Linked DNA regions of Homo sapiens: region 1 is linked to region 2. Evidence: fine-mapped expression QTL. Tissue or cell type: whole blood. Region 2 holds a variant in brackets; the other region holds the start of a gene. Each region is shown on its reference strand, or each on the opposite one.

Evidence for each region.
Region 1: it holds the start of HMGN4, and the variant in region 2 is fine-mapped to the expression of HMGN4 in whole blood (TOPMed, PIP above 0.99).

The regions. Positions count from the first base shown.
Region 1 is chr6:26,536,141-26,540,495 of GRCh38, reverse strand. It overlaps HMGN4 (high mobility group nucleosomal binding domain 4), which reads right to left and starts at 2,130. Exons shown (of 2, transcript NM_006353.3): 1 at 1,995-2,130. TRR-ACG1-2 (tRNA-Arg (anticodon ACG) 1-2) reads right to left here and starts at 2,998; the gene lies at 2,926-2,998. It overlaps TRV-CAC1-6 (tRNA-Val (anticodon CAC) 1-6), which reads right to left and starts at 2,442; the gene lies at 2,370-2,442. RefSeq lists enhancers at 1,510-1,919, 3,180-3,844, 3,934-4,355 and silencers at 2,410-2,459, 2,853-3,146.
Region 2 is chr16:57,023,133-57,027,459 of GRCh38, reverse strand. It overlaps NLRC5 (NLR family CARD domain containing 5), which reads right to left. Exons shown (of 49, transcript NM_001384950.1): 5 at 3,607-3,675; 6 at 442-2,092. Among named protein-coding and RNA genes, the nearest start is that of NLRC5, 36 kb to the right of the region's middle. RefSeq lists an enhancer at 491-1,009. The variant G/A (reference allele first, on the strand shown) is at 2,398.

The DNA of each region.
Region 1 (4,355 bases), not on the chromosome of region 2:
GGGTGTGGTGGCATATGCCTATAGTCCCAACTACTTGGGAAGCTGAGGCAGGAGAATCACTTGAGCCTGGGAGGCGGAGGTTGCAGTGAGCCAAGATTGTGCCACTGCACTCCAGCCTGGGTGACAGAGCAAGACCCGGTCTCAAAAAAAAAAGAAAAAAAAAAAAAGATTCACAGGCAAGATGCAGTGTGCTACAGAAGCAAGAGGTCACATGGTGTCAGTCACTCTCCAGGGCGTTTGTTCTTCATCTTCCAAAGTATTAGAGACGCAGCATGAGTTTCCACGGAGGTTAAGTGAGAGAGACTGGGAGATGCAGGGGTAGAAAGGAAAGATGAGAAAACGCAGGGTGTCTAAAAGGGTAGGTTTGCTGCTGCAGCTTGCCAGAATGCATCTGCTTTAAAGAGAAGGAGTGAGCCATAAGCTCCCAAACAGTCACCCATCTGTAAAGGTTGGTTAGGGGCACACTCACCTTCCAGGCTAAAGTATTCCTGCTAACTGGGATCGGAGAAAGATGAAGAGGATAAATCCTTGTCATCTCCTAGGACCCTGGAACCTTTGCCCCCTTTCTGGGCACCATAATAACTTGCTTATATTTCTGAGTAGTACAGAGGGGATTTTAAATGAAAATGTATTAGACAGGTTGCTGTTGAGCACATGCCCAAGTTTATTGTCTTGCTAACCAAGATATTATCTTGCTAGCCAAGGTGTTGTCTTGTTAAGGGAACCAGCAAGATGACAAAAGAATGGACCTTTCAAGTCAACGTCTACCCAAGCAGCCTGTTTAAGAAAATGATAAAAAGAAAACAGCTCATTAACATTGTCCTTTTCTTTCTTTTCTTTTCTTTTTTTTTTTTTTTTTTTAATTTTGCGGACCCACCAAAGAATGCAGCCCTTCTTTTCTCATGGTCATAAAAATATCACATTCGGTTGGGCGCGGTGGCTCATGCCTGTAATCTCAGCACTTTGGGAGGCCGAGGCGGGCGGATCACTTGAGGTCAGGAGTTTGAGACCAGCCTGGCCAATATGGTGAAACTCCGTCTCCAACTAAAAATACAAAAATTATCCGGGTGTAGTGTTACACACCTGTAGTCCCAGCTGCTCGGGAGCCTGAGGCACAAGAATCGAGGTGGAGGTTGCAGTGAGCGAGATCGCACCATTGCACCCCAGCCTGGACAACAGAGTGAGACTCCGTCTCAAAAACAAACAAACAAAAACAAACACATCACATTCTTATTAGTCATTTGAGGGAACCTGGAGCAATATGATCTGAGAGGCTAGGCTTGGCTAATCCCTAGAAAAAGTAGTAATACATCTAAGAAAGAAATCCCTCTTAGGGAACACCCGAGGCTGCCAGGTGACACAACAAAACTTTCTCATAAAAGCGTTTGATTAATCCGATTAACTTGTAAGCAAGCCATGTGGCAGAGGTAAGAGGCCAAACACCAAGGCACCAGTCCTGATTCTAAACAAGTGCTGGTCCATTTCTTAACTTTGGGATCCATTTTTTCTTTGTGATGGAATAGCAAAAGGTCAAAGTGGAGGAGGACTCAGCCCTTGGGTGTCTCCTCAACGAGGGTTTCTCGAAGGTAAATTGGGGAGGAAGGGAGAGCCCACGGCAGGTCAGTCCAACCTGCCAGTCACCACCTCTTTAAGGCCACAGCCCTGCGGGAGCAATCCTTTCAAATCCCCTTCCTTCCTTCTTTTAGAACGCCCCTAGAACGCCGATTAGGACTTCTCATCCCGGTCGGGCCTGCGGCTCTCTGTGACCCCACCTCTGGATTCAGCTTTTCCCAGGGATTCACACTCGGAGCTCAGGAGAGATGCTGCGATTACTCTGGAGACGGGAAGACAGGCGGGGCTGACGGGGCCCAAGGCCCCTAATCATGACCGGGGCCAGCTGGCAGGAGGGTCCTAAGTATACGGAGGGCGGCGGGACCCCCCCCACCACGCCCCTCATTTTCCGGGGTAGCGCACAAAGTCTGTGAGGCACTTACCCGAGTCTCGTGGCCGTCCGAGGGGCGCGGGAATCCCAGCTGAGGCCCGTGACGCGCCGGAGCCCTAGGCGTGGGCAGGGCCAGCACCAGCCCTAAGACAGAGAAGACGAGCGGAGCCCGGCTCCGCCAGGAACAGGAAGGCGAGGGAAGGTGAGGATGCGCTTCCGGGGCTGCAGGCGGGGAGCCGCCCCGAGTCCAAGCCGGAGAGAGCTGGTTCTCCCCCTGGCGATACGTGTGTGAGCCTCTGAGGCCCGCCCTAAGCACTGCTGCCCCGATCTAGCAAGACAAGAAGACAGGAAATTTATGACAGCCTGAAAAAGTCTTTAAAAGATACACACTGGAAGAATTTCGTAGTAAGATGAGGAAAAAAAAACGTGTTTCCGCCCGGTTTCGAACCGGGGACCTTTCGCGTGTGAGGCGAACGTGATAACCACTACACTACGGAAACCCACTAAGGGCTTATTTTTCAGAGTAAATAGTTCTTCCTGCCTAGTTCCGTGTTTCTTCGTTCCAAGTGCGTGTTTTGCTGATGTGCGCGTGCGTCTCTGTACCGACCTCTCAAACCAGAAAAACCAATGAAAAGCTCAGACCCAGCCCCTCCAGTGTTCAAACTGAAGCCATAGAATTTATTCTACAAATGACTGAATAGGGAAGAACACAATAGAGACTTTAATTTAATCTCTGAACGGTCCTTCGTTCTTCGGCCAAAATGGCCAGGCAAGGCTGGGCACAACTTGGGTAGGGCGAGCGTTTCTCTGGCGTAGTTGGCGTTACCACGTGGTCAGTGGCAGAATGCTCCGCAAAGAAATGATAACCCCATATGTTGTCGGGAGCTGCCCCTCTTGCTTCTGAGTCTTCCAGGCAAATTTATCTTGCAGGAATTTCCTTACTCCTGCGGAGTCAGAAAGTTGTAAAACGACCCTGCTTACACCGAGCCAGCCAGGAGTCGAACCTGGAATCTTCTGATCCGTAGTCAGACGCGTTATCCATTGCGCCACTGGCCCTGCGCGTACCTTAGGGGCGAGGTATTTCATAAGAAACTAGGTTGTACCCGTAATATCTGGGTGAACGCCTGTAAGCCGCGTTTGCCCGCTGGTCCAGGCTCGCAGCGCATGGACTCTCTGGTAGCTACTTCTGCACACGCCCCGTGGCCTTCATTCCTTTCTCGGTCTGTCTCTGCCGGCTGAAAAATGGCGGTGAAAAGCAAGCCCTGCATCCTCTCTGCCCCAATATCACCGCTCCATTAATGCGTTCGTTCATTCAACCAGTATTAGTGTTCAAGGCACTGCAGATAACGGTGAAGAAAACATGAGAGACCCTTGCCCTCAAGATTACATGGCAGTGGCGGAAGCGGATAATAAAGCATTAAATAAACAAAATAATAGTGATAAGCGATTGGAGAAAAATAATAATAAAACAGGGAAAGAGGATAGGAAAGGCCAGCAGTGAAAGTGATGAATGAGGGATAAATGCTGATATCGGGGAAATGAGTGATCTGGAACAGGGAAAAATCGCTAGGGAAAAGGCCTGGAGGTGGAAGCAGGCTTGGGAGTTATGTTGAGGAGGCCGGTGCTCAGTGGAGAGGAATAGGAGATCCTGGGAGACCACCTCCAGCTTTATAGGCCCTTGTAAGGACTCTGGCCAGCTTTACAGGCTCTTGTAAGGACTCTGGCTGGTATTCTGTAGGAAACTGGAAGCCGTTGTACGGTGACGTGGTCTGAGTTTTCATTTGTCTCTCTGTGGGTCTTTTTTTTTTTTTCTTCAAATATTTTACTAAGCGAAACTGTGCTAGGCCTCCTCACTGCATGCTGCTTCTACTGCAGGGCCTTGATCTCAGAATTTGACAGCTTTATAAGGAGCATCATCAACCCGGACACTCATATGAATGTTCACTTTTTCACTTTGAAAGCAAACAAACGTCTCATATGTGTGTGTTTTAGTTTGTCCATATTTCTGAGAATAAATCATCCCCATGCCTGGTGAGCATTTTAAATAAGATGAGGTCTACTAAACAGAAGTAAAACTGCCTGATATTGAGAATATACACTTTGAGATTAGAAAATATTTGTTTTCAGTTCATAAGGTTTCAACAGCCGTTACAAAAAATATTCTGCTCTTTCTGCATAAATATTAAGGTAGACCTAGGTTATGGATTACTCCCTAGGCAATAGCATAGGGATCTTCTCGTTAGGTTTTGTACTATGGACCCCAAGGGCAGCTTGGTGATTCTGGACTCTATCTCAGAATAATACTTTTAAATACACGAAAGAAAAGATAAATATGTAAGATTTCAAAAGAAAACTAATTATGTTAAAATAGGTTACCAAAACTTTTTTTTTTTTTTTTTTGGAGACAGAATTT
Region 2 (4,327 bases):
AGCCTTTGCTCTGTGCTAGGCACTGTGCTACAAAATGTTTTTCATGCACCATCCCATCTCATTCTTGCAATGACCATATGAGTTGGCTATTGTTACAGATTCGTTTTAGGAACGAAGAAACTCTGGCCTAGACAGTGTGCATGTGTGTGCTCCATATACTTGCCCAAAGTCCACCAGCCTCTATAGACAGCCTGGATCTGTGGTTTCAGCCCATGATTGACAGAGAGACTGAGAGTCCAGAAACCACAGACAAGAGGAGGATCCATTTGGACTCCAGAGGTCCTGTCAAGGTATGGAGCTTCCTCTCTTGCATTGCAGGCCATTATGTTCTGATATTCAAGATTCTTATCCAGTCCTCTTGGCAGAGGTTTGCTAGACTGGTTGGCCTCTGCTCCCCCAAAAGCCCAATCCCCTCCCCGGTCCTCCTCCACTCTTACTCACCTGAGATTCTCTATCTGCCCACAGCCTACCAGAGCCTCAGGGCAGTGGGGCTCCAGGGGACAGCCATCAAAATCCAGGTGGATGGGGGCCTCCCTGTGCTCTAGGATGTTGGTCAGGGTGGCCAGGTCGGTGCAGGTCAGTGGGAAATTGTGGAAGGGCAGTTGATAGGGGAGGCTTTGTGCGGTGAGACTGGCCAGCTCAGGCTCCTGTGTCTCATCCACACAGTGACACAGCTCTACAACCTTTGGCCCTGTGAGCTTGCGGGTGGCCAACTTCTTCAACACCTGCACTACAGCAGCCTGCTTGGCACCCACACAGTCCTCATTGCCCTGCGCCAGGTGGCTAAGGAAGGGGCGGCAGGTGCAGGATGCCAGGCCCGCCAGGAAGGTGGGGAGGTGGTCTGAGAGGCCCAGTCTAGCTTTGGTCCGCTGTACCCAGCGGGAATGGAGGGTAACATACTGGGTAAGTGTGTCTTTGTTCACCTTGGGGCTGGCCATCAGGTGCAGGGCAGCAAGAAACTCCTGCAGGCTGAGGTGGGTGAAAGCATAGCCTGTCTGCTGGTGCCCAGGGCCTGTGCAGACGCAGAAGGAAGTCAGCAGGCTGTGAGTGGCCCCAAAAGCTATCAAGGGTGGAGCAATATCTTTTGCATAGAAGATAACCTTCCCTGTCTCCAGGCCCCTCAGGGCCACCTCCCCCAGGTCCAGTAGGGACGAGGTGGGCAAGTGCCCAGGGGGGCTGAGGGCGAGCACCATCTGCATATAGAGCTGAGTCATGTTGGGCAGGAGGGCCACAGACTGGCCTGGGGCGTGGTCAGGAAGCAGATGGTGGAGGCAGAGACAGGCGACTTGGCACAGTGCGGGCACCGCACACAGGCTTCGGAGACGTCCATTTGTCTGTAACTCCACCAGGGCCCCCTCCCGCGATGGCTGGGCGCTGAAGAAGTGATTCACATATTCTTCCACCCGTGGCCCATCAAAGCCCAACATGTGGACCATGGCTGCCTCTGCAGGCAGGCAGGCAGGCAGCTTCCCTGGACGGGAGGTAGCCATCACCCGGCAGCCAGGCAGGAGGGTCCCATTGCAGAGATGGGAGAAAAGGGTGAGGACTGGGCCTGGGCCATCAGGACCCATAGGCTGGAGGGCCTCATCTAGCCCATCAAAGATCAGCAGGACTTGGTCAGCGTTCTTCTCCAGGTACTGGAAGACAGTGTCGTGGTCCGATTCAGGGCTCAGGTACAGATCAAAAAGGAGCTCGGACGGTGTCAGGAACCTCGTGATCAAGTTGAGCTGGCGGAATTCAAAAAGGAACAGGGCCTGGAAACAGTTCAGATGGCCCTCTGCCCACTTCTGGCAGAGCCGGTGGGCCAGCGTGGTCTTGCCCATGCCAGCCTTCCCCAAAAGCACGGTCACCCTCGGGCCCTTGTTAACCCTGGTGTTGAAGAGGTCCGAGATGCTCACGTCAGCACCATCTTCCACCTTGACGTCCCCCATAATGGCCCCCTCCGGAGTGTCTAAGGATGCTGTGGCCCGGCGCAGGATTGGAGGGACATAGACCTGGTGGAAGGCGTGGGGCTGCCCTGACCCAGGGATTTGGCTCCTGTAGCGCTGCTGGGCAGAGGTCCGCAGGAGCTGCAGGTACTTCTTGGCCAACTCTGCAAGGGGCAGGGACATGGCATGAGGAGAGGACCCCCCGGCCCTCTGCTCATGTCTTCTTGCCCCAGTATTGGGCTGTTGGGAGCCTGTAGCCCCAGATGTGTATGTATGATGGGGTGAGGGTGGGGGTGTCAAGAGCACCATAGGGGGATCTGTGCCACCCCAACTTCCAGAAGGAATCAGTTCTAAGGGAGCATAGGCTCTCCGGTAGCTATTTAAACAGGCAGGTGGGAATGGGGAAGTGTGGGTCACGGTTCTATCCATTCTGCAATAGTACACGTGGTGTAAGGGTTCAGTAAGATGG[G/A]GGGAGGGGAATAGGGCACCTCCTTTGCAACATCTCTTTTTTTTCTTTTTTCCCAGAGACAGAGTCTCAGTCTTGCCCAGGCTCCAGTGCAGTGGCACGATCCTAGCTTACTGTAGCCGCAAACTCCTGGTCTCAAGTGATCCTCCTGCCTCAGCCTCCTGAGTAGCTGGGACTACAGGTGCACACCACCACACCCAGCTAATTTTTGTATTTTTAGTAGAGACAAGGTTTTGTCACGTTGGCCAGGCTAGTATTGAATTCCTGGGCTCAACTGATCCACCTGCCTCAGCCCTCCAAAGTGCTGGGATTACAGGTGTGAGCCACCGCGCCCAGCTACTTTGCAATATCTTATTGAAACAACCTCTTTCTGTAATATCTGGATCCCCAGTGCCTCTTCCCAATATTTCAGTTCTGCAATGCCCAGGGGTGAGCACTAACAACCTGTAGGCCTAGGCATTACCGATCGGAACTGTGGGAGCTGGGCCCCTACAGTGCCAGATGTTAACCTTTTAATTCCTGGGTCATTGAGAGGTCTCAGGTGACCCAGGGAAAGGGCTGGGGCTGCTTTTGGGGGAACCCTATGGGGAAAGGCCAAGGTAGTGAACTATTTTGAGCGGATGTGAATCCTCTGGTTATAGCCATGGTTGGCAGCAGTGGGGGCAGAGAAGGCTCTAGTTAGTGGGACAACTCGTGGAGAACGAGGACCATTCTGAGAACTGGTCAAGAATGAGAGAAGTCCCCTTTCTTCTCTCACTGGCCTGGCCTGCCCTAAGCAGCTCCATGTCTCCCCATGGGCCCCCAGGGCCTCTGTCTTGAAGGTTTCTCCCAGGCCTCCTCACCCCTCCCCATCCCTGCTCACCCCCAAACTGGTCTCCTCCCTGGGTCTCCTTCAACACTGAGGACATAGGGTGTCCCTGGAAAAGCCTGGACAGCGAAGCTGAGACCTGTATGGTGCTTCCAGCTCCTTCAGCGGAGCCCTCTTCAGAGAAGTCCCCATGCAGCCAGATGGGTGGGGAGCCCCTTCGCTGCCAGCCCAGGCCTCTCCTCTGCCTGTGCAAGACCTCCAGTCCTTTTCTCCTGGAAACTTGCGAGACAAGAGTCACTGGGCCTCTGGAGGCTTATTGGCAGGGGACAAGGTCCAGGGTCCGGGTCTTGGCCCCCAGGCAACCCCATCTCTCTGTTTATGTTCCTCCCCACACTGGTACCCACCTAGCTGCTGCTTCTTGCACTGCTTCCGGCGGGGTGAGGACCCACAGCTCTGATGTGGGCGCTTCAGGCCTGAAAAAGCAAAGGAAGGGGTGGAGGAGTGGGGTCTGGGGATCTGGGCTGAGGGGTTACCCAGAACCTTTGGGGAACTCCAGTCCACAGACAGGTGGCAGGCAGCCAAGTACACCCACATGCAGGGACTGGAAAGGCAGGCAGCAGGCAGAGGCTGGGTCAACACCAGCTTCTATTTGCAGAGTGGACTTCTAGGCACCCCCATTGGAAGGTGGATGTTCTGGGCCTGGCAGTCTTGCAGTCCAGGATGCAGGAAGCAGGGCCAACAGCCAGCAGCCCCCAGAAACACTCAGCTCCAAGCACTAAATGGCCATCTGTCCATCAGGGAAGGACCAAGCTCTATGGAAGCCGCCGGTGGTCATATAAGTGAAGTTCCCAGTGAGTTTGGCCAGGCCTGCAACCTCCCTCCTCTGTTAGGGTTTTATCATCCCGATTTCTTATCACCCACATTTCCTCACTTCCCTTAATAGTTTCTGGAGTCTTGTCTCATTGTATGGATTTTCAACAATCACTTTAATGCCTTTCTGGAAGAGTTTGAGAAAGGAAGAAGGAAAACAAGAAGGAAGGGGACCCAGAAAGGAAGGGAGGGAGAAAGGAAAGAGGACTCAGGAAAGAATTTTAAGAAGTCAAGCAGGGTCCTCCTACAGCTAAG